4 linked regions of the Homo sapiens genome follow. The protein of the gene in region 1 purifies or fractionates together with the protein of each later gene. This does not show direct contact. Each region holds a gene or a part of one and is shown in the gene's direction. Other genes may lie near its edges. The genes, in order: MVP, TEP1, UTP25 and COP1.

The links.
Region 2: the proteins of MVP (region 1) and TEP1 purify together in Homo sapiens (affinity purification with western blotting; one study listed by BioGRID). This does not show direct contact.
Region 3: the proteins of MVP (region 1) and UTP25 fractionate together in Homo sapiens (co-fractionation; one large-scale study listed by BioGRID). This does not show direct contact.
Region 4: the proteins of MVP (region 1) and COP1 purify together in Homo sapiens (affinity purification with mass spectrometry; 3 studies listed by BioGRID and IntAct, with this or other methods). This does not show direct contact.

Annotation. Positions count from the first base shown.
Region 1 is NC_000016.10:29,822,826-29,828,798, forward strand, and holds part of MVP (major vault protein), read left to right. Parts: intron 1-5,973. UniProt on the Homo sapiens protein: Required for normal vault structure. Vaults are multi-subunit structures that may act as scaffolds for proteins involved in signal transduction. Vaults may also play a role in nucleo-cytoplasmic transport.
Region 2 is NC_000014.9:20,363,605-20,369,412, reverse strand, and holds the end of TEP1 (telomerase protein component 1), read left to right. Parts: coding exon 1-69; intron 70-510; coding exon 511-615; intron 616-853; coding exon 854-976; 3' UTR 977-3,746; downstream 3,747-5,808. UniProt on the Homo sapiens protein: Component of the telomerase ribonucleoprotein complex that is essential for the replication of chromosome termini. Also a component of the ribonucleoprotein vaults particle, a multi-subunit structure involved in nucleo-cytoplasmic transport.
Region 3 is NC_000001.11:209,829,841-209,835,813, forward strand, and holds part of UTP25 (U3 small nucleolar RNA-associated protein 25 homolog), read left to right. Parts: intron 1-267; coding exon 268-307; intron 308-962; coding exon 963-1,203; intron 1,204-3,344; coding exon 3,345-3,518; intron 3,519-5,234; coding exon 5,235-5,323; intron 5,324-5,973. UniProt on the Homo sapiens protein: Component of the ribosomal small subunit processome for the biogenesis of ribosomes, functions in pre-ribosomal RNA (pre-rRNA) processing. Essential for embryonic development in part through the regulation of p53 pathway.
Region 4 is NC_000001.11:176,199,094-176,205,066, reverse strand, and holds part of COP1 (E3 ubiquitin-protein ligase COP1), read left to right. Parts: intron 1-5,973. UniProt on the Homo sapiens protein: E3 ubiquitin-protein ligase that mediates ubiquitination and subsequent proteasomal degradation of target proteins.

The DNA of each region.
Region 1 (5,973 bases):
TCCTGCCTCAGCCTCCCGAGTAGCTGAGACTACAGTTGCCTGCCACCATGTACGGCTAATTTTTGTATTTTTAGTAGAGACGAAGTTTCACCATGTTGGCCAGGCTGGTCTCGAACTCCTGAGCTCAGGCAATCCGCCTGCCTTGGCCTCCCAAAGTGCTGGGATTACAGCCACTGCGCCCGGCCTGAAACTGATCTTTATCCTCCTCCCAGTTCCTACTGTGCACCAGAGACCCTCCAGTCTCTAATACCTTTGACTTGAAGAGCAGTCATTTTTTTTTCCTTTTCTTTTCTTTTCTTTTTTTTTTTTTTTTTTTTGAGATGGCCTCACTCTTGCCCAGGCTAGAGCGCACTCGTGTGCTCCATTTACGGCTCACTGCAGCCTTGACCTCCCAGGCACAGGCGATCCTCCCACCTCAGCCTCCAAAGTAGCAGGGACCACAGGTGTGCACCACCACACCTAGCTAATATTTTTTATGGTTTTTATAGAGACAGGGTCTCCCTATGTTGCCCAGGCTGGTCTTGAACTCCTGGCCTCAAGTGATCCTCCCATCTTGGTCTCCCAAAGTGCTGGGATTACAGGTGGGAGCCACCAAGCCTAGTCAACAGTCACTTTTATTCTCACTTCACTGGAGAGGAAGGCTCAGAGGCTAGTAAGTGGCCCAGGAGCATGCTGGCAGTGATAAAACCTGCTGGAGTGACATTTTCCCACTGGCTCTCAATCCTGGATATATATTAAGAGTCAGAGGCCAGGCGCGGTGGCTCACGCCTGTAATCCCAGCACTTTGGGAGGCCAAGGCAGGCGGATCACGAGGTTAGGAGATCAAGACCATCCTGGCTAACACAGTGAAACCCCATCTCTACTAAAAATACAAAAAAAATTAGCTAGGCGTGGTGGTGGGTGCCTGTAATCCCAGCTGAGGCAGGAGAATGGCATGAACCCGGGAGGCGGAGCTGCAGTGATCCGAGATCGTGCCACTGCACTCCAGCCTGGGTGACAGAGCGAGACTCGTCTCAGAAAAAAAAAAAAAAAATGAGGGAGAACTTTTTACAATAGCAACGGGTGAACCTCACCCAGACCAATTAAATAGAATCACCGGAGATGGGTGGCTTTAAAAAAAGGTCTCCAGAAGGCCTGGCGCGGCAGATCACACCTGTTATCCTAGCCCTTTGGGAGGCCGAGGTGGGTGGATCACTTCCAGCCTGACCAACATGGCGAAACCCTGTCCACTAAAAACAAAATTATCTGGGTGTGGTGGCGGACATCTGTAATCCCAGCTACTTGGGAGGCTGAAGCAGGAGAATTGCTTGAACTCGGGAGGCAGAGGTTGCAGTGAGCCGAGATGGCTACACTCCAGTCTGGGCAACAAGCACGAAACTCCATCTCAAAAAAAAAAAAAAAAAAAAAAAAAAAAAACAGATTTCCAGATGACCAGTGTGCAGCCCGAGCCGAGAGTCTGCTTTAGACCAGAGCTGCTCAGACTGTAATGTGCATGCAAGTCATTGAGGGTCGAGTTAAAATGCCAGTAGATTCAGTGGCTCTGGGGTGGGGCCCCAGGCTGTGTTGCTATCAAGCCTCCAGGTGGTACCACTCTACTCACTGCAGACCCCGTAGGCAGTGTGGTCACTTGGTCAATTGCCATTTAAGACTCACTAGGGGCCAGGTGTGGTGGTTCACGCCTGTAATCCTAGCACTTTGGGAGGCTGAGGCAGGCAGATTGCCTGAGCTCAGGAGTTTGAGACCACCCTGGGGTGAAACCCCATCTCTACTAAAATACAAAAAATTAGCCAGGCTTGGTGGCATGTGCCTGTAATTCCAGCTACTCGGGAGGCTGAGGCACGAGAATTGCTTGAACCTGGGAGGTAGGTGGACGTTGCAGTGAGCCGAGATTGTGCCACTTCACTCCAGCCTGGGCTACAGTCTCCAAAAAAAACAAAAAAGAGATTCAGTATATCAGCTACTCACAGTTGACCCTGAAGATCTCTGGGAAGTAGTGACTCATGACTCGTTTATTTATTAAGTTTTGCTGTAGCAGAAGTTTACTTTTGAGCCAAGAGTCTGATCCGGTCTCCCTCTTTTTTTTTTTTTTCTTTCTTTAAAGAGATGGGGCCTTGCTATGTTGCCCAAGCTGGTCTTGAACTCCTGGCCTCAATCCATCCTCCCACCTTCGGCCTCCCAAAGTGTTGGGATTACAGGTGTGAGCCACCTCTCTCAGGCAAGAGCCCCTCTTTTAACTAGACAATGAACCTGGTTTCTGCTTTGGACAGGCTATTTAGTTCCTGCTTATTTACCCTCATGGTGGGAGAGACCCTGGTGGGATTTGGGGTGAAAGCTGGCTGTGGTTCTTGCAGGAGCCTCATGACACCTGAGGGAGGTGTGATCAGGCAAGACTGGGCCTCTACACTGAGAGCCGACTAGGGCAGGTCTCAGAAGCAGAGACTGAAGGAAGTTGGGTGGATGAGTGGATCTGGGGAGCAGGGGCCAAGCCTGAGGGCTGGGCAGAGCCTTCCAAAGGTCAACACAATCCTTGCTATTGTCTTTTGAGGGCCCTGATCTATTTTAAGTAAAATGCTCTAACTGCGCATGTCATCTGGAAGGAAACCACAAAAAACTCAATCTGAGACTTGTCACCAATGTGCTGCCTGAGTCAAAGGGTTTCCCTGGCTCACCTCCATAGATGGCGAGGGTAGAAGGCAAGACCTGTCCTGGGTGGTCTAGGCAGAAGGCCCAGGTTTAGGGCATGGCAGGTGGGTGGTCAGGGAGGTGAGGTGGGGTCCTGGTGCTGATGCAGGGGCAGTTGCCGAGGGCTTGGCCTCAGAACAAGGCAGGAGTCCAGCCATGAGGATGACTCTTGCTGAGTCACTGAGCTGGGCGAGGCATTCAGACCCCCTGACTGGGCCCAGCTGGGGCGGCAGATGGTGGAGAGGCCTCAGCTGTGGGGGGTGTTGGGGAGATTATCCACTGATGAACCAAATGGAGGCTGTTCCCAGAGCCTGCTTCCAACCTTGCACGGCCTTCTAGAGTTCAAATCTTTCCTGGGGGGGCCTCAGAGCCCTGTCCATACCTCCGCTCACAGCCCCAGCCCTTCCTCTTCTCCCATCTGGTTTCCTGGCCAGGTTTCGGCCCTGCGGAGAACCCTCCAAGGGAGCAGTGGAAAAAGCTTCACTTGGCAGTAAAGCCCCTACTTGCTGTTCCATCCCTGCAGCTGGGGTGAAATAAGCCACTGACCAGTAAACAACTGAGGCTTAAACCAGCATGCCAGCTCAGGTGGGGAGCCCCCAGCACTGGTTATATTCCCTAGATTCCTCACTGGATAGGAAAGTTGGGCCTCAGGCACTCTTCCCTCCTCTGCAGTCAAACAGTGCAGATGAAGAGCCAGGCTCTGTTCCCAGTGCTTTATGTGCTAACTTGGTTGATAATGTTATCCATTCTCATTTTGTAGATGAGGAAACAGGCACAGGGTGGTCAAGGGACTTGTTCAAATCACTGATCCCATAAGGGTGAGAGCCAAGATCCAGGCATCCTGGCTGGGTGCGGTGGCTCCACCTGTAGTCCCAGTGCTTTGGGAAGCTAAGGCTGGATGACTACTTAAGACCAGGATTTTGAGACCAGCCTGGACAACAAAGACCTTATGCCTACAAAAAATTAAAAATTAGCTAGGTGTGGCAGTACGTATCTACAGTCCCAGCTACTCGGGAGGCTGAGATGGGAGGATCCCTTGAGCTGAGGAGTTCAAGGCTACAGTGAGCTGTGATCACTGCACTCCAGCCTGGGCAACAAAGTAAGACCTTATCTCAAAAAAAAAAAAAAAAAAAGGCCGGGCGTGGTGGCTCACGCCTGTAATCCTAGCACTTTGGGAGGCCGAGGCGGGTGGATCACAAGGTCAAGAGATCAAGACCATCCTGGTCAACATGGTGAAACCCCGTCTCTACTAAAAAAAAAATACAAAAAGTTAGCTGGGCATGGTGGCAGGCGCTTGTAGTCCCAGCTACTTGGGAGGCTGAGGCAGGAGAATCATTTGAACTGGGGAGGCGGAGGTTGCGGTGAGCCGAGATTGCGCCACTGCACTCCAGCCTGGCGACAGAGTGAGAGTCCATCTCAAAAAAAAAAAAAAAAAAATCCAGATCTAGGCATTCCCAGCCCTCTGGACTCTAGGAAGTCGTCTTTCCAGAACAGAGCCCCGTATTGTGGAGCAACTGGGGGGTGGAATCAAAGGTGAGCAGGACAGGGCTATAGGAAGAAAAGACAAGGTCCCCATAAGAGTGGCGAGAGGAACAGAGCCAGGACATCGGAAAGCAAGCCCCTGTGTTCCCAAACCGCAGAAGAGGGAGCTCTGATGTTAGACAAGCCACCCTCCTACAAGCGAAGGGAAAGTAACTTTGAGCAAAAATGAGCAACAGAAAATGAGATCAAGGTCAGATCTCATACAAAGTTGCAAGATGAAAGAATGAGCAGCAGAATAACCTCCCTGTGATGTGGAAAGTGTGCCAGGAAAACAGACCCAAACTGTAACCTCTTTCAGAATGAGGCAAGGCAGTGAGGAAACTATGTGAAAACACGAAAGCAGCCGATCAGAGTTGTAAGCCCGGGCAGTCTGGGTTGGAATGGGTGCCCCGAGCCACGGGACCATGATGCCTCTCTAGAAAGACAGGACCAGGCATTCCACCAGGGTTCTAGTCCCAACAGCACCACTAACTTGCTTGTGGCCCTAAAGGATTCATTGTCCCTCTCTGGGTCTCAACTATTTAGAGCTCTACTGTCCAGTATGGGATCAACCAGCCATATTTGGCAATTTAAATTAAAATTAGCTGGGTACGGTAGCGTACCCCTGTAATCTCAGCACTTTAGGAGGCTGAAGCGGGAGGATTGCTTGAGCCCAGGAGTTCGAGACCAGCCTAGGCAACATAGCAGGACCTTGTCTCTGCAAAAAAAATGAAAAAATTAGCTAGGCGTGGTGGCACATGCCTGTAATCCCAGCTACTCGGGAGGCTGAGGTGGGAGGATCACTTGAGCCTGGAGGTTGAGGCTGCAGTGAGTCATGATTGTGCCACTGCATTCCTGCCTGGGCAACAGAACAAGACCTTGTCTCAAAAAATAATTTAAAAATTTAGTTCCTCAGATGCATTAGCCACATTTTATTTTATTTTTTTCCAAGACAGAGTCTTGCTCTGTCGCCCAGGGCTGTAGTGCAATGGCGAGATCTTGGCTCACTGCAACCTCTGCCTCCCAGGTTCAGGCAATTCTCCTGCCTCAGCCTCCCAAATAGCTGGGATTACAGGCACGTGCCACCATGCCCAGCTAATTTTTGTATTTTTAGTAGAGACAGGGTTTCTGCATGTTGGCCAGGCTGGTCTCAAACTCCTGACCTTGTGATCTGCCGACCTCAGCCTCCCAAAGTGCTGAGATTACAGGTGTGAGCCAGCATGACCGGCCATTAGCCACATTTTAAGTGTTCAGGAGCCACATGTGGATGTGGCTAGTCCAAAGACAGCACAGATTTAGAATATTCTCATCATTGTAGAAAGCTCTATTGGACGCTGCTGAGTAAAAGGGTTTTTTTGGTTTGGTTTTGAGATTGGAGTCTCGCTCTGTTGCCCAGGCTGGAGTGCAATGGCACGATCTCTGCTCACTGCAACCTCTGCCTCCCAGGTTCGAGCAATCCTCCTGTCTCAGCCCCCCTAGTAGCTGGGATTATAGGTACCCGCCACCACAACTGGCTAATTTTTGTATTTTTAGTAGAGACGGGGTTTCGCCATGTTGGCCAGGCTGGTCTCGAACTCCTGACCTCAGGTGATCCACCTGCCTTGGCCTCCCAAAGTGCTGGGATTACAGGCTTGAGCCACCACGCCCGGCCAAGTTAAAGGGTTTTTAAACAAGAGCTGGGCAGTGCAATGGCATAGCTGTAAGGCAGCAGGGGGTGGTGGGGACTGTGGTAGGTGGGAAAGCTTGTGTTCCATCTAAATGGGGCAGCTG
Region 2 (5,808 bases), on another chromosome or scaffold:
AGCATGGATAGTGATGCCAGCATGGATAGTGAGCCAACACCACATCTAAAGACACGGCAGCGTAGAAAGGTGAGTTTGAAGGAAGGGTCAGAAATACTAGGGGAGGGCTGGGAGCAGTGGCTCACACCTATAATCCCAGCACTTTGGGAGGCCTAGGCGGGCAGATAATGAGGTCAGGAGATCAAGACCATCCTGGCTAACACGGTGAAACCCCATCTCTACTAAAAAATACAAAAAATTAGCTGGGCGTGGTGGCGGGTGCCTGTAGTCCCAGCTACTCGGGAGTCTGAGGCAGGAGAATGGTGTGAACCCGGGAGGCAGAGCTTGCGGTGAGCCGAGATTGCGCCACTGCACTCCAGCCTGGGCGACAGAGCGAGACTCTTGTCTCAAAAAAAAAAAAAAGAAATACTAAGGGAGGAGGGCTGTAGGTCTGACACAGCACATTGTGATGCTTCTCTGAGGAGGGGCCCCTGAGAACTCACCATTCTGCTCTCCCCTTTCCTCTTTGAGATTCACTCGGGCTCTGTCACAGCCCTCCATGTGCTACCTGAGTTGCTGGTGACAGCTTCGAAGGACAGAGATGTTAAGCTATGGGAGAGACCCAGTATGCAGCTGGTAAGTGTGTGTGTGTGTGTGTGTGTGTGTGTGCGTGCGCCTGCACACCTATCCCAAAGGGATGTCACAAGACAGCAAACTTAGAGTAAGAAAGGGCAAAAGATCAAAATTCTGTTTTCTTCAATCACTTGCAATGTATGACTAACCTGTTTCTAAATAAAAGGCATTAATGTGAGAAAAAATAAGTTAGTAAGGAGGCTTGTAGCCCTGACCTCCCCTATTTTTGTTCCCATCGTAGCTGGGCCTGTTCCGATGCGAAGGGTCAGTGAGCTGCCTGGAACCTTGGCTGGGCGCTAACTCCACCCTGCAGCTTGCCGTGGGAGACGTGCAGGGCAATGTGTACTTTCTGAATTGGGAATGAAGATGTGCCACTCGGGAATAATGATACCCCTTGTGCTAGAGATGCAAAGCCTGAAGACACTGGTAGCTTTTAATAATTATAAAATTAATAATTTCTTGATAATTATAAAAATGAAGTGTCAAAAAATCTCAAGTGTAGGCCTGCCTGTGTTCTCATGTGGATTTAGAACAGGAGGATATTCTATGTGTATGTATATGTACATTCTAATGTGTGTCTCTTCTTATTCAACATTAATCCTTACTAGAACCACAAGAAAGTGAATGAAATCTTTAGTAGGTACTCTTTTGAAACTAGGTTTTAGAATTCTTGCATCACTCGCGGGCCCTAGGACCCTAGGATGCCATTCTTGCCAGGAGGAGGAATGAGAGTGATGTTGGCCAACATTCAATTTGAACAGAGCATGGAAGACCTTTCAGTTCATCGGGAAAGAATGAGGGAGGGAGAATAAGTCAGTCATGCATCAGGGCATTTAGAAAGAGCTATGTTTCTGTCACAGAGACAGCCCTTTTCTCAGAACTACCCAGAGGAGGCCGGGCATGGTGGCTCACGCTTGTAATCCCAGCACTTTGGGAGGCCGAGGTGGGCAGATCACGAGGTCAGGAGATCAAGACCATCCTGGCTAACATAGTGAAACCCTGTCTCTACTAAAAAATACAAAAAGTTAGCCAGGTGTGGCGGCGGGCACCTGTAGTCCCAGCTACTTGGGAGGCTGAGGCAGGAGAATGGCGTGAACCCAGGAGGCGGAGCTTGCAGTGAGCCGAGACACCACTGCACTCCAGCCTGGGCAACAGAGCGAGACTCTGTCTAAAAAAAAAAAAAAAGAACTACCCAGATGAGAGGTGAGGAGCCAAGCCATTGAAAGCGGAACAAACCTTCTGGTTTTCCCAACTTCTGACACGACTTTCAACTTTAGTCAATATGGTAATTGGCATTCTCAGAAGAGATCACGAAAGTGTCTTACTCTCTCTCAAATTGAAATTCACAAAGATTAAAACTAATTGAGAGGTGGCACAATCATAGCCATGAACTCTGATTTTCTTAAGTAAAAAACCTTTTTTTTTTTTTTTTGTTTTTGAGATAGAGTCTGGCTCTGTCACCTAGGCTGGAGTGCAATGGTGCAATCTCAGCTCAGTGCAACCTCTGCTTCCTGGGTTCAAGCGATTCTCCTGCCTTAGCCTCCCGAGTAGCTGGGATTACAGGTGCCCACCACCACGCCCAGCTAATTTTTGTATTTCAGTAGAGACGAAGTTTCACCATGTTGGCCAGGTGGGTCTCAAACTCCTGACCTCAGGTTATCTGCACACCTCAGCCTCTTAAAGTTCTGGGATTACAGGCGTGAGCCATTGTGCCCGGCCCATAAAAGAACTTTATTATATTTCTAAAATTCAATCATATGGAAGAATCTATTGAGCAGGTTAGCCTTTGCTTAACTTTCCTCCTCTGTTACTCCAGCCTTAGCTGGGGTGTTTTGTAGAATTTTCAGAGCATGGGAGACAGACAACTAGAGCTTCCTCCTGCCCTTGGCCCATGCTTTTAGGAGAGCAAAAGGCAAAAGATTGAAACCACTGACTTTAGTTTCCTCAGGCCCTTTCTTTCTGAGGGTTAAAGAAGAAGGAAATGTCTTCTGTGGCCAAGAATTCAAGGACTTGTAGGAGATAAGTGAAGGCTATTACAGGGATTTTGTCCTGGTTTGGTAGGTTTCTCTTGGAGAAATACCACTACACCCTGGTCTAGAAATGAGTTTTGAAGACTTGGGGAGTTAAAGGGCACTGAGTTTTACTCTCACTGTACCCTGATTCCAGGTTTTACATGGAGAAATAACCTGAGGGACTTTATTTCTATCCAATGCCCTGGTTTCCATCCTGACCAGAGGATGATGACATCCGCTGATAGGCCATGCTTCTGTCTTCTCTTATGTGCCTCATGCCAAGCCTCGAAATATACCTTCTGGACCATCATTTCCACATCTACCTTGTGACTAGAAGTCCTAGTTATGGTATTTTGAAATTTATGATCCATAATCCTTGCCAGAAATCCTGCAGCGAACTATGGCATGGCATCATCCTAGTCATTGATTTCAATCTTTTGCCTTTTGCTCCCCTAAAATCTTGGGCCAATTGCAGGAGGAAGCTCTATTTGTCTCTCTTCCATGCTCTGAAAATTATATAAAAGCATCCCAGCTAAGGCTGGAGTGAAGGGGTTGGGGAAAGTTAAGCAAAGGCTAACTTGACCAATAGGCTCAATAGATTCAGTCTTGTTGGCCAGGCCCACTTGAAGGGTTTTTTGTTTCATCTTGGAGAAGGACAGTGAGGTCATGGTATAATTGTTATGAGTAAAGTCAAGAACAGCTTCTAGGTAAAAGTAATTATGTACCCAAAAGGAGTTGAAGGGAAAATCAATTTAGGTTTACATTAAACATCCTTCAAGTTCTTATCTTTAAATGGAGTTTCAGTGTCTCCCAAAGGCTGGATGAGTTTTACAGTTATAACCACTGGATTGTGAGACCATAGGACATTTGAACAATCTTTTCTTCTACCCATCTAGAAAAGCATCTTTTTTATATACCAAATTTTTACACATATATCCACATCTGTTTTTGAAATCTAGAGCAGAGGTACTCAAAGTTTGGTTCATGGACTAGTGCCAGTTCACAAATTGTTAATGTTTTATAATGAGATAAGTACGGAAGTTGAGAGTAACCATTTAGAAACTGTGTAGGAATTTAAAAAGTAATATCTGACAAATTTAATAATAAAAATGGAGGCTTGTATTTTGTGTGCTTTTTAATTTCATTTTCTTAATAATCCATTTTGATTATATTTTATAAAAGTATTATTCCGTGACAGATAAGAAATTAAAACAGGCCAGGCACGGTGGCTCACGCCTATAATCCCAGCACTTTGAAAGGCCAAGGCGGGTGGATCACCTGGGGTCTGGAGTTCGAGGCGAGCCTGGCCAATATGGTGAAACCCCGTCTCTACTAAAAATACAAAAAATTAGCTGGGCATGGTGGCAGGCACCTGTAATCCCAGCTACTTGGGGGGCTGAGGCAGGAGAATCGCTTGAACTCAGGGGGCAGAGGTTGCAGTGAGCCGAGATCGCATCATTGCACTCCAGGCTGGGCAACAAGAATGAAACTTGGTCAAAAAAAAAAAAAAAAGAAAAAAAAGAAAGCAAGAAAGAGAGAGGGAGGGCGGGAGGGAGGCAGGAAGGAAGAAAGAAAGACAAAGGAACAATTAGTCCTTCATCTCAGAAGGTTTGAGAAGCACTACTCTAGAGAGACTGGGTAACAGCAGCAAAAAGCATGGACTTGGAATAAGACTGCCTGAGTTCAAATCTTCATGCCTCCTTTCCCCCATTTGTACAACAGCCATAATAATGGTGCTTACTTCATGGGAGTGTTTTAAGGACTAAATGAGTTAAGGTGTAAAACACAGAACAGTGACACTTTTGTGGTAAGTATTCAATAAGTGCTAACTTGACTGTTCTTTTTGTTACCTAGCAGTACGAGTATCACCTCATTATTCTTTCTCATAAATGTCTTATTTATTAGTATATATTTAATCAATCAGAAAATCTGGACCGAATTTTTTAGTTTTCAAAAAAATGTGAAACTCGTATTCTTTCTAAGTTCAGGGGTACAAGTGCAGGTCTGTTACATAGGTAAACTTGTGTCATGGAGGTTTGTTGTACAGTTTATTTCATCACCCGGGTATTAAGCCTAGTACCCATTAGTTGTTTTTCTTGATCTTCTCCCTCCTCCCACCCTCCAAATACCTAATCTTCTCATCCAGAACGATGGGTATGTTTCTTTATCAGTTAAAATATTAAAGTTATGCTATCATAACAACCCCAAAATCTCAACAACTTAAAATAGCAAAGATTTATTTCTAAATCATGCCACATGGCCCGTTAAGGGTCAGCGAGAAGGCCCTGCTCTACTTTGCGCATATTTTGAGCTCTGTGCTTCACGTGGCGAGTAACTCTTCAATCTTCCACTTGGAAATAAAACACATCACTTCCACTCATATTTAATAAATACAAGCAAAGCAAGTCACGTGGCCATACCTAATGTCAAGGGATGGGGAGGAAGTATCCTACGATGTGTCTGAAAGAAGAACCAGGAGCCAATACACAGATGACATCCCCAAAGAACATATCTGTGTTGGTGCTTTCCCACTAGAATGGCTCTTAATCCTTCTTTTTTAATAATGTAAGATTTAGGCTGGGCGCAGTGGCTCAAGCCTGTAATCCCAGCACTTTGGGAGGCTGAGGAGAGCAGATCACCTGAGGTCAGGGGTTCAAGACCAGTCTGGCCAGCATGGTGAAACCCTGTCTCTATTAAAAATATAAAAATTAGCTGGGCGTGGTGGCATGCACCTGTAATCCCAGCTACTCTGGGGGCTGAGGCAGTAGAATCGCTTGAACTCGGGAGGCGGAGGTTGCAGTGAGCTGAGATCACACCATTGCACTCCAGCCTCAGCAACAAGAGCAAAATTCCGTCTCTAAAAAATAAAAAAAAATGTAAGATTTACAGAAGAGTTGCAAAGATAGTACAAAGTGTTCCTCGATACCCTTCACCCAGCTTCTTCTAATGTTAACATCTTACATAACCATGCTACATTTATCAAAACTAGGAAATTAACATTTGTTAATTAAATTACCAGTAAGTTAATTTAAAAATGTTAATTAAATTACAGTCAGGATTTGGATTTGCCCAATTTTTCCGCTAACGACTTTGTTTTGTTCCAGAAGCCAATCCAGGATCCCACATTGCATTTAGTCATTGCGTTTTCTCAGTCTCCTCCAACTGTGACAGATTTTCAGTCTTT
Region 3 (5,973 bases), on another chromosome or scaffold:
TTATTTAGCCAAGTTGTATCCTTCTTTTGGATGAGAGCCTTGTGTGACTCTAGGGTTTGTCATGTGACCTCCTTAAACTTTTCATTTGTCAGTTATTAACCATATTCTTGCCAGCCCTGCCCAAGTGCATGTGTAATTTTTGCATGACTATATCTAAAATGTATTTATAATGTTATATTCTGCCTTTTTCATTTAACATCTCATTTGACCTTTTCCTAATTTCTACATACTAGTAGTTAGAATGTAACATTGCCTGTTTCTTTTTAGGGTTTCCAGAAAGGAAGCAAAGCCACAGATTTGTCAACTGGTAATGCTTTCTACCTTCTTTTTAATAGTTGGTTTTGGGTTGTTCCCACTAAGATTATATCTAATAATAAAGCTTGATTACATTTCTATTCCTTTTGATTTCAGATGCAAGCTATTATTTTGGCAGTATCACTTAATTTTAAATGCAGATGTCTATAAAAATGCCATTGTGATATCTAATACAGAAGCCACAGTTTGAAATTGTCCCAGGAGACTAGCCTATTAGGCCCTGTTACAGAGGCTTATCAGAGGGCTCTTAGTGAATCCTAAGAGGGAATATCTTTTTTGGTTAGCATAAAGGAGTCACAAATACAGTGCAAAATGAACAAAGGGCCTATCATATTACAACAAACTAAAAAAAAAAAAAAAGAAACCTGTTTTCTTTTGTTGTTTTGTAATTATCCTGTTGTTCTATTAAACCTGTGGCCTAATGCCTGGGACATAAATTAAATCTCATAACCTGAAGTTTTATGTTTTAAAAGTGGGGCAGTAGCAGTTTGGAGCATATGAAGAGCTTCTAGAATCATAGCTAGATTAGCAATTTTAAGTAAATTTGAATTTGGGCTTCGTTGAATAGATGTTGGCTTGATGATAGTTTTAGGGTAACAATAAGAACAATATAGTTTTTGTTCTTAAAATTCTCCTTTTCCTTTTAGTCAGAGAGTTCAGATTCTTCAGATTCTGAAAGCGACTCAGAGAGTGAACCACAACAAGTTTCTGGCTACCACAGACTACTTGCTACATTAAAGAATGTTTCTGAGGAAGAAGAGGAAGATGAGGAGGAGGAAGAGGAAGAAGACAGTATTGTAGATGATGCAGAAATGAACGATGAAGATGGTGGTAGCGATGTCAGTGTGGAAGAAGAGATGGCTGCAGAGTCTACTGAAAGTCCAGAGAGTAAGTGTCTTTACTATAGGCTCATCATCTTTGCCAGAACTATAGACAGTTCATCTCATGAGCATGGTACCTTATATACTGTGTGAGTTGGATGAAAGGACATGAATCCAAAATAGGGATTTACCCTTGTTGGGTTTGATTGTATCTTTGAGAATCTGATGGAAACACAGAACCTTCTTAGCACAGCTAGGCAGAAATAACATTTTTGCTTGTAATTTCAGGGACTTCATCAGTACTAGTGAAAGACCTCCTAATACAGAGGAAGGAGAACACAGTTCTGTCTTTGTGACTGTCTGAATTTATTGAAGAGGTTACTGTTCTTCTCTTAGGGAGACCAAGTTTGATGGAAGATAGACATAAATATATATAAAAAATTTCAAACAGTAGATTTGCGATTGCATGGAACAGCTAGATGTAAGGTGTTGAAGAGAGGCAGAGTGGTTGAACACTGCCAGTGTAAATTAGGGAAGGCTTCAGGGACTCTGTGTCACTCAGACTTGAAGGTGACTTTTTTCTTTAACTTCAAAATCACCTTCATTGAGGTATCATTTACATACAGTAAAACGTATCCAATTTAAATATACAGTCTGACAGGTTTTGACAAAGGTATACATCCAAATCAAGATACAGAACATTTCCATTACCTCCAAAAATTTTTCTTATCCTTTTGCAGTCAGTTCCCCACCCTTGGCATCAGGCAGCCACTGACCCGCCTTCTGTCACTGTAGATTAGTTTTGCCTGTTCTAGAAATTCATATAAATTGAATCATACAGTATGACTCCTTTTGTGTCTAGCTATTTTTGCTTCTCATGTTTTTCTAATTTATTTGTGTTGTGCATGTATTAGTCACTTACTACTTTTTAGTTGCTGGAATAGCATTCCATTGTCTGAATATAGCTGGGTGACTTTTTACTCATTATTTTAATGCCTATTTTTCTTATAGCCTTATTTTTTTTTTATACCTTCTGGTATTATATATCATTCCAGGTATTTTAACTGATCAGTTTTACTGAGATAAAAATTCATTGACTTACACTTAGGAGTTTGTTTTGTTTGTTTCTATTTTTCTTTGCTTTTTTGGATTTTTAAAAATGAAAATTTTTTTATCATTATAAAAATAATATATATTTACTGTAAACATTTAAGAGGGTAATATAGTTACCCTCTATCCCTGCTACCCAGAGATAAACACCTTTAGCATTGTATATAACCTTTCAGACTACATTTTTATGATTATATATGAGTATGTATATATATTTATGTGTATCTGTATAATGGCCTTATACATTTCCGTAACTTCCTACATCTGTGACTGTGGATTCACATTAGCTTCTTAATTACATAGTATTCCATTGTAAAAATATGATTGTACCCCATTGATAGACCCTTTTTCCCCCAGTTATTTCTTATAATCAGTGCTGCTTTGAACATCCTCTCATGTACATCTTAGTGTACTATGTCTGGTTACTATTTTAGAATAAGTTCCTAGAACTAGAAGTGGGTATATTAATTCGAAATCTCCAGAGAAACAGAACCGGTAGGATATGTGTGTATATGAGAAAGAGATCTGGCTCACGCCTGTAATCCCAACACTTTGGGAGGCTGAGGCAGGCAGATCGATTGAGCTTAGGAGTTTGAGACCAGCCTGGCCAACATGGCGAAACCCCATCTCTACAGAAAAATACAAAAATTAGCCAGGCATGGTGGTGCATGCCTGTAGTTTCAGCTACTCGGGAGCCTGAGGTGGAAAAATCACTTGAGCCCAAGAGGTGGAGGTTGCAGTGAGCCAAGATGACACCACTGCACTGCAGCCTGGGTGACAGAGCCAGACCCTGTCTCAATATATAAATAAATAAATAAACGCTCATCCAAAAATACCCTCGCAGAAACATCCAAAATAATGTTTGGCCAGATATCTGGGCACTGTGTCCCAGCCAAATTGAGACATAAAACCCACCATCATGCATCATGTGTTGATGATTAGGCTTAATTTTGAAATCTATGTTTTCTACCTGAATTTACCTAAATATAAATAGTATCAATGAACGCTATTGTTGGTATAGCCTAAGGAAATAAATTTTGTCAACAGAAGTATAATTTGTGAGTAAATAATTTTATAAAATGTTTCTCAAAACTGCAGATGTAGCTTTATCTGCTGACCCTGAGGGAAAAGAAGATGGGGAAGAGCCACCGGGCACATCACAAACATCCCCCGAAGAGTTCACAGATGCAAAACACGAGTCACTGTTCAGCCTGGAAACCAATTTTCTGGAAGAGGAAAGTGGAGACAACTCTTCTTTGAAAGCCTCTCAAGGTCATAGCACAGTGTGTGTTATTTGAATTCACCAGGTGCTTAGTATGGAATTTGTGTACTAATACACATTGAATCTATTATTGGAACAAACAGCAATAAAAACAGTTTAGTGGCTAGATCTAGAGCTGGGAAAAATAATTCTAAAAGGTATTTTGTGTTTCTCAGTGTTTAGGGGTTGGACGGGACATTTAGGAGAACAAACAAGAATGATGGTAGGGAAGGCCAGCTTCCCAGGCCTCACATTTTCATTATTGGAGTCAGGGGAAGATTTCTGATTTTCTCCCCAAGTAGGGAAAGAGAAAGAAAAAGAGGAAAAAATACTTCCTCTACCCCTCACTTGCTGTTCCTTTTTGGAGCAGTAATTTTTCAGATTTGCAAGACCCAGGGGTGGCTAATCTGAGTGGTCTTTATTACCAGGGAGACCCTCAAAAGCCAAAAAGCCCTACCCTGTGTCTCCTGCCTCCCACAGACTCTTGACCACTCCTGTGACCAAATGGCAGTCACGTGGTCAAGACGTGCCTATGGCGGGCTTTGATGGGTTCCTGCTGTCTCAAGTCCAGTTTCTCAGCCAGTGTCTGGGTGGGCAAGTCAGGTTGGTCTCGTTCTGTATCCTGATTGCCTTCATTGATCTCATTGCCATTCTTCAACCCAGCTTTACCTTTAATGAAACAGAAATTTTAATCCTCATTTGACTCATTTAGTTCTGTTGGTTATTTTGCAGGAGAAGAAGTGACAGGTAGAATTTGTAGATTTTAGTACAAACTCCATTCTGAACCATTAAAACTTAGAAACTTTGGAGGAAACATTAGGAAGCTTGACTGTCCCATAATTTCTGTGGTTGTTTTGCTCATACAGATATATTAGCATCTAGAATTCTTATGTCCTGTTGTTCACTCTTAGATATTTAATACAAGATGCATTTCATTTGAAATTTTACTGTTTGGATGCTTGGATGGGTCATTTAACTTTGTTCTGTTTCTTATGAGTGGGACTGGGAGAGAAGGTTGGGTGGCTAGCTCAGAATACTAAAGATTACTTGGAGTGCAGATGCTATCATGTGGATCATTTGTTCAATTCAGTGGAGTATTGGTCATATCTGTGTGTCCCAGTGCAAGATCAATCAGACATGGAACCTGTTCTTAGAGACCTTGCAGTCTGCTAGATAAGACATGTATATATGTATATGTGTTGGAATGGGTGGGTTGGGCAGAGTAGGAGACTTGAGAAAGTGATGACTCTAGGGAACAAGGTGAGCCAACGTTGTGCCTAACACAGTAAGCCTGGGAAGTATTTATTGTGATTCAGTGGGTAACATTAAATTGATAACATTTGGATATGCAAAAATGAAGTGAAGGAGAGGCTGGAATTTTTAGTTGAAGGAAGGAAAAGCACAGAGGCAGAAGAATTTGAGGGCCATATAGTCCAGAAATGATAACGGAGATGCAGGTTGGAGGTATATCCTAAAGTGCTCTGAATTCCAGGCTGAGAAGTTTCTTCAAAAGTTTTCAAGCTGGGAAGTAATATAATTAGAGAAATGTTTTAGGAAAATGAACCTTTCAGAAGTTTTTAAGCTCTGGACTTGGCCAGAGGGTGGGGAAAGTCAATGGAGAAAAGGATGAGTTAACACAATGAAGATCAACATGTCTTTCACAGGGGAAGACCACAAAACCCCTCTGTAGTTGCATAGTGTGCTGACATTTTTTATTTCTGAATTAGATCCATTTCTTCAACATGTGAACAAAGAACTGAAAGAAAAAGCAATTCAGGCTGTTGCCACAAATCCCAAAACTACCCACGAGCTTAAAGTAAGTGTTGCTTGGTCATCCCGGTCACAAATAGAGAAAGCTCTAAATAAAACAGTGGTCTTGGGTTTTAGTGGCCTCCCAGAATGTATGATATACACCTGCAGTAGATGGCTTGATAGGGAAGCAGGGCATAAGGAAGGCTAGAAGAGCCTAGTGGGGCACAGTTGTAGCTAGAAAACGCACCAGGAAGCTGGAGTGTGGGTGCCAGATAATATAATGATGGGTAAGAGTGGATTTGGAGACCAACATCTTCAAGGAGCTATCACATTTTGACCCAAGGCAAGTTCATCTGCTTTTTTGCTATTCACTATTCTAGTCTGCTAGAGGGGGATAATAATACCTATCTCAAAATAGAATAGTTTACTAATACATAGTGTTCAGTAAAACAGTGTTCATTAAAACAGTAGGTACTACTGTTGTTCATTTGTTTGAAATATCTGAGGTAGGTCCACAAATAAATTATCCAGATATTGGGCAGTTTTTGCTTCTTTGTTCTTACCACTGATGCCATTCATGAGAGTTGGTCATCCTTTTTTTAATTGAAATTTTTATTGAGGGAATAATTATAGATATACATGCAGTTGTAAGAAATCATACAAAGACATCTTGTACCCTTTGCCCAGTTTTCCTCAGTGGTGAAATCTTGTAGA
Region 4 (5,973 bases), on another chromosome or scaffold:
AAGGAATCGATCATTGTCATTCAAGAGATACTTGTATGACATTCACTGTCGGCCAGGCACCATATGAAGTTCAGTGCACTGCAGGCTATGCTATAGGGAATTGGGAACTCTTTTTTTAAAAGAGTAAAAATTTGTATTTGAGACGGAGTCTTGCTCTGTCACTCAGGCTGGAGTGCAGTGGCACCGTCTTGGCTCACTGCCACCCCCGCCTCCCGGGTTCAAGCAATTCTCCAGCCTCAGCCTCCCGAGTAGTAGCTGGGATTACAGGCACCTGCCACCACACCTGCCTAATTTTTTGTATTTTTAATGGAGACGGGGTTTCACCATGTTGGCCAGGCAGGTCTTGAACTCCTGACCTCAGGTGATCTGCTCGCCTCGGCCTCCCAAGGTGCTGGGAGGGATTACAGGTGTGAGCCACCGTGGTCCTGAGTATTTCACTTTCTAAGAATCTCATTAGTTAATTATTTCTTTTTCTGGTGAGGTTTAATATTCAGAAGAATTAATTAATGAGAATCTGATTTAAAACTCAAGCCAGGTTTGATTTTGTCCAGACTCTTGGGGTAGGATGATATGGATTAGGCAAGGCCCAAGGAATCCTTTTTTTCTTTTTTTTTCCCCCCGTTTGGCTGTGGGTCTTGTCTTGTATGCCCCAAGGTCAAACTGTGAACCAATTCAAATTATTCTATGCTTTTATATTTAAACGAAGCCCAAGTTCAAATAATGATAATTTCTTATTCATTTATGGGACATTTTAAAGATATGCTTATGCTTCACGTTTTATTTTATCCTTAGAACAATTCTGTGATGTTATATATAACTTATTTTTAATACAATACTAATTATTTTCTCATTGAGGCACAGAGAAGTAATTTTGTTTGTCGTTGGACAGGTAAGGACAAAATGAGAACTCAGATTTCCCAGTTCTCAACTTTGTGTTTTCTTTGTGTGCAATTAGAGAGTTTCAGATCTGTAAGTTCGAGTACATGTATTTAGCCCAGTGGTTCTTAAACGGCACAGATTGGAGGAGAAGCAGCTGTTTCATAATCATATGAGATAAATGTTTTATCCCTCACCACTCCCTTTTCTTACCTGCCCACATCCCAAGAAGACGTACCTGAATTGGAGGCTGGGGTGGGTGGTGTAATTTGCATATGCTCCCCTGGTGATAGGGACCTGTCCTTCTCCCCTCCTTGAGAACTGTTGATTTAAATAGTCACGTACCTAATTTCAGTAATAAACATTGGCCTCTCCTGACTTATATTTGAAAGTAAGTTTATATTTAATTGAAGAATTCATAAACATTTTAGGGGTTTAGGTTGCATTTTTATATTTTATTTTACACAAAAGATTGAAGGTATTATCAAGTTGAATAATTTTAACAGTGTTTTATTGATGGAGAATCTAATACAGGACAGTAGTATTTAGCTTGACATTGGATACATTTTCAACATTCAGAGGAAGTCTTTGTTATTTTGTTTTTTGCAAAATTTTCTTACGGTTCATTTAACTAGACTGTGAGTCTGGTCTGTATTTGAAAGATGACTTCTGTTTTTTATACGGACTCCTTTTTTAAACAATTCTATAACTACTGCCTTTGTATTAGCTTTTCCAGCTATCTCAAATGAAGTTTTCTACCTCTGCAAGTCCCAGCCATTCTTGCAGCAGAAGTATACGTTTGCATGTAGATAGTAAGCTCTTTATGAGAAGGTTGACTTTTTTTCTTTTTTTTTGAGACGGAGTCTCGCTCTGCTGCCCAGGCTGGAGTGCAGTGGTGCGATCTCGGCTCACTGCAAGCTCCGCCTCCCGGGTTCACGCCATTCTCCTGCCTCAGCCTCCCGAGTAGCTGGGACTACAGGCGCCGGCCACCCCGCCCGGCTAATTTTTTGTATTTTTAGTAGAGGCGGGGTTTCACTGTGTTAGCCAGGATGGTCTCGATCTCCTGACCTCATGATCCGCCCGCCTCTGCCTCCCAAAGTGCTGGGATTACAGGCGTGAGCCACCGCGCCCGGCCGAGAAGGTTGACTTTTAATCATCTGCTTGATAGAAAATAGTTAGGATCTACATTAAATAGATCTACCATTCAGTAAATATGTGACTGCCTATTTTGTGTTAAACTAAGATTCTCTCTTCTTAAGGAGCTCATGATTTAATTCGAAGAATGGCTTTTAACTGTGTAATTATAATATCATAACCTGGTATCATTGCCTCTCTTAGTGTCATGACAGATGTTAGTACCATTCCTTTTTCTTAGTGCCATGGCAGATGTTAAATACTCTAATGGACTATGCATAGTACAATATATAGCCATTACCTATTAATTACATTTTAGCACTAAAAATGAAGCCTGTTGACCATTCTTGTTAATATAACTGGTTTCCAATTTTTTTTTTCCTTTTTTTGAGACAGGGCTCTCCCTATGTTGCCCAGGCTAGTCTCAAACTCCTGGGCTCAAGCAATCTTCATGTCTTAGCCTCTCAAGCAGCGGGGATTAGAGACGGGTGCCACCACCTGTAATCCCAGGATATTTTTAATAGTCTGAAAAACACGTGGCTCTGTTTTTCAGACTATTAAAAAGTGAGGGTGGGCACCTTGGTTCACGCCTGTAATCCCAGCCCTTTGGTAGGCCAGGGCAGGAGGATTACTTGAACCCAGGAGTTTGAGACCATCCTGGGCAACATGACGAAACCCCATCTCTACAAAAAATACAAAAATTAGCCTGTGTGGTGGCTTGTGCCTGTAGTCCCAGCTACTCAAGAAGCTGAGATGGGAGGATCACTTGAGCCTGTGAGGTCGAGGCTGCAGGGAGCTATGATCACACCACTGCACTCCAGCCTGGACGACAAAGTGAGACCCTGTCTCCAAAAAAAAAAAAAAAAAAAAAGTGAACTAGAACGTATCATAGAATCTGTCGTAATAAAGACAGTAACAGTTTGTGCAGCAATGTATGTGGAATGTATTTCTCACTGGGTACACTGGTAAAATTTTTTTTAAAGTCACTGAATTATAGGACTGAATTTCCTCTGATAGGAAAGTGGAAAGTTTAAGTGACTTTTCTTTTTAGACCATTGTGAGCTTATAAATATAGGACTAAATATAATTTAAAGAGCTGTTAAAAGCATGTTCAGTTACTGGAATAAACCAGCATTTATTATATTATTATAGTAATATCTGTCAAGAACTTATTTGAATCTGCAAAAGTCAAACTTGATGCTTCTTTTGCTTTATAATACATGTGCCATTTGGATGTCAATGATGAAACATACTCTGCAGGAGATGATGTCATATTTTATCAGACCTATTGGTACTGTCAGACCTGTGGACTATCAGATGGTGGGGCATCAGCATCAATGGTAGCAGGAGACTTCTATGGGTGAATTAAATGGTAGAGAAAATAGATGATCATGAAACAGGATAGGAAGACTATTAACTTGGAATTGTAGTCTATAAATTGAGAAGAAGGTACTTGTGCAATAGTAGTTCATTACTAAAGAATGTGTTGATAAGCAGTTATCTTTTCCTTTTACAAATCTTTATACCTTTTCTGATAATGAGCCAACATTACATAGGTGGATATGTTCCATCTAAGAACTGTTACTGATTAAAGTAACTGTAGCCTTAAACCTTGTTGCTTACTTTTCCTTCTTGTATGTGTATGTTTTTTCTTAATGGTGATTTTTTCATATTTTATATAATTATTTTAACCTGCTACCCTTTTCCTCAGAAAACTTCCACAGCTTGGGAGGAAAGGCTTTTTTGACGGTGGAATTAGCCCATCGTCTTTTTCCTGTTAAAATTTGTATTACAGGGTGAGTATCCTCTATCTGAAGTGCTTGAGACCAGAAGTGTTTTGGATTTTAGGGGTTTTTTTGGTTTTTGTTTTCGAATTTTAGAATATTTAAATTATATTTACCAGGTTAGTATCCTTAATCTGAAAAATCTGAAATCCAAAATGCTCCAGTGAGCATTTCCTCTGATAGTCATGTTGGCACTGAAAAAATTTTTGATTTTGCATGATTTTGGATTTCAGATTTTCAGATTAGGGATATTCAACCTGTATACCAAATAAAATGTTTTTTAAGTTGGGCATGATGGTGCATGCTTGTAGTCTCAGCTCCAGGAGTTTGAGTCCATCCTGGGCAATGTAGTGAAACTCTGCTAAATTGTTTTTAAAGTTCTTGATCTGTTTTTATATGTGATGTTGTATGTAGGACAAAATTCTGTAAGCATTCAGGTTTTTGTGCAGACTTGTCTTTGCCCTCCACCTTACTTGTTCTTTGTCCTCTTTCTTTATGTGTGTATGAGCCAAGTTCTATTCAGATAGGTTGGTACTTTCTCAAACAATATATTCACTGAGAGTAACATGTTTTTCTTTATACTTAAAATATGTTAGTTGTCCTTTCATTTTTCACAATTAAGTTTTATGAACTGATTTTGCCTCTGTTTCTATATAAAGTGAAACATAGAATGCAGTAGGTGATCTGATTTCTGTTTATTGTATTTCTGGTGTAACCATTGGGAATCCATCCTTCTTTCCTAATCTGTGTGGTTTGGGGTGGTACATTTTTTCCCCAAATTCAGAATTGGAACACATGATCCATGCTCAAGTGTCTAGTGCATTGGAATCCTCTGTCTTTAGTATTAATTCACAGATGGGCATTTGGCTCTAAATAGAGATAATGAGACAAAGTAGGCTTTGTAAAAATTACGACTGTTTTGGGGGTTCTTTTAGATATTTGAAACTCAAACGTTCATAAATGCCAAGTCCACTCAAGTGAAGATGGAATGTGTTGTACTGACAATTAGTTTGGGACAAATACTCATAATAATAAGTGCTCAAATATAAATTGCTATTTGCCAGGCACTATTTTAAAGGTTTTACGTTACTTGTTTAATCTTCACAACAACTGTTTGCTGTAGATACTCTTATAGTTCCCATTTTGTAGATGAGGAAATGTGGCCCATAGAGGTTATATAACTTGTCTCAGTTACACGGTTAATAATGGTGGTACCAGTATTTATATTCAGACAATTTGGCTCAGAGGTCAGGTTCTTAACCACTATTACAAATGGTTACCCAAGTTAACCACCCATTTCCTTGCCTTTATTTAGAGGCTGATTTTGTTTAAAATTAGCTTTACTAAGTTATAATTTGCATAAAATAAGTCACTGGTCATAAGTGTGTAGTTGAATGAGTTTTGACACATGAATACACCTGTGCAGTCACCACCCTAATGAAGATATGATACATTTCCAGAAAGTTCACTTTTGCCAGCACTTCATACTCTGTGTCTACCTTCACACCTAACACCTGGCAACCAGTGATCTGCTTTGCATTGCTGTCATTTTGCCTTTTCTGGAATTTCATATTAATGGAGTCCTTTAGTCGGTAGTCTTTTGTGTCTGGTTTCTTTCGTTTGGTATAATGTTTTGAAATACACTGATGATGTTGAGTGTACTGTTTTTTTTCTTTTAATTGCTTAGTATTATCCCATTATATGGATATAACATGAACTGCTTATATATTTGCTAGTTAAAAGATTTTTGACTTGTTTCTAGTTTTTGGCTATTATTTAGAAAATTCTGTAAGCATTCAGGTTTTTGTGCAGACACGTCTTCACATTTTTAGGGTAAAAATATCTAGTAGTGAATTGCTGAGTTCTCTGCCAAGTGTATGTTTAGTTTTAAAATAAACTGCAAAACTTTTTAAAAACTGCCTCTACCATTTTGCATTTCTTTTTTATCTTTTTTTGAGATGGGAGTCTCATACTGTCGCCCCAGCTGGAGTGCAGTGGCACGATCTCAGCTTGGTGCAACCTCTGCCTCCTGGGTTCAAGCAATTCTCCTGCCTTAACCTCCCGAGTAGCTAGGATTACAGGCGCCCGCCACCATGCCAAGCTAATTTTTTGTATTTTTAGTAGAGATGGGGTTTCACTGTGTTGGCCGGGTTGGTCTCGATCCCTGGACCTCATGGTC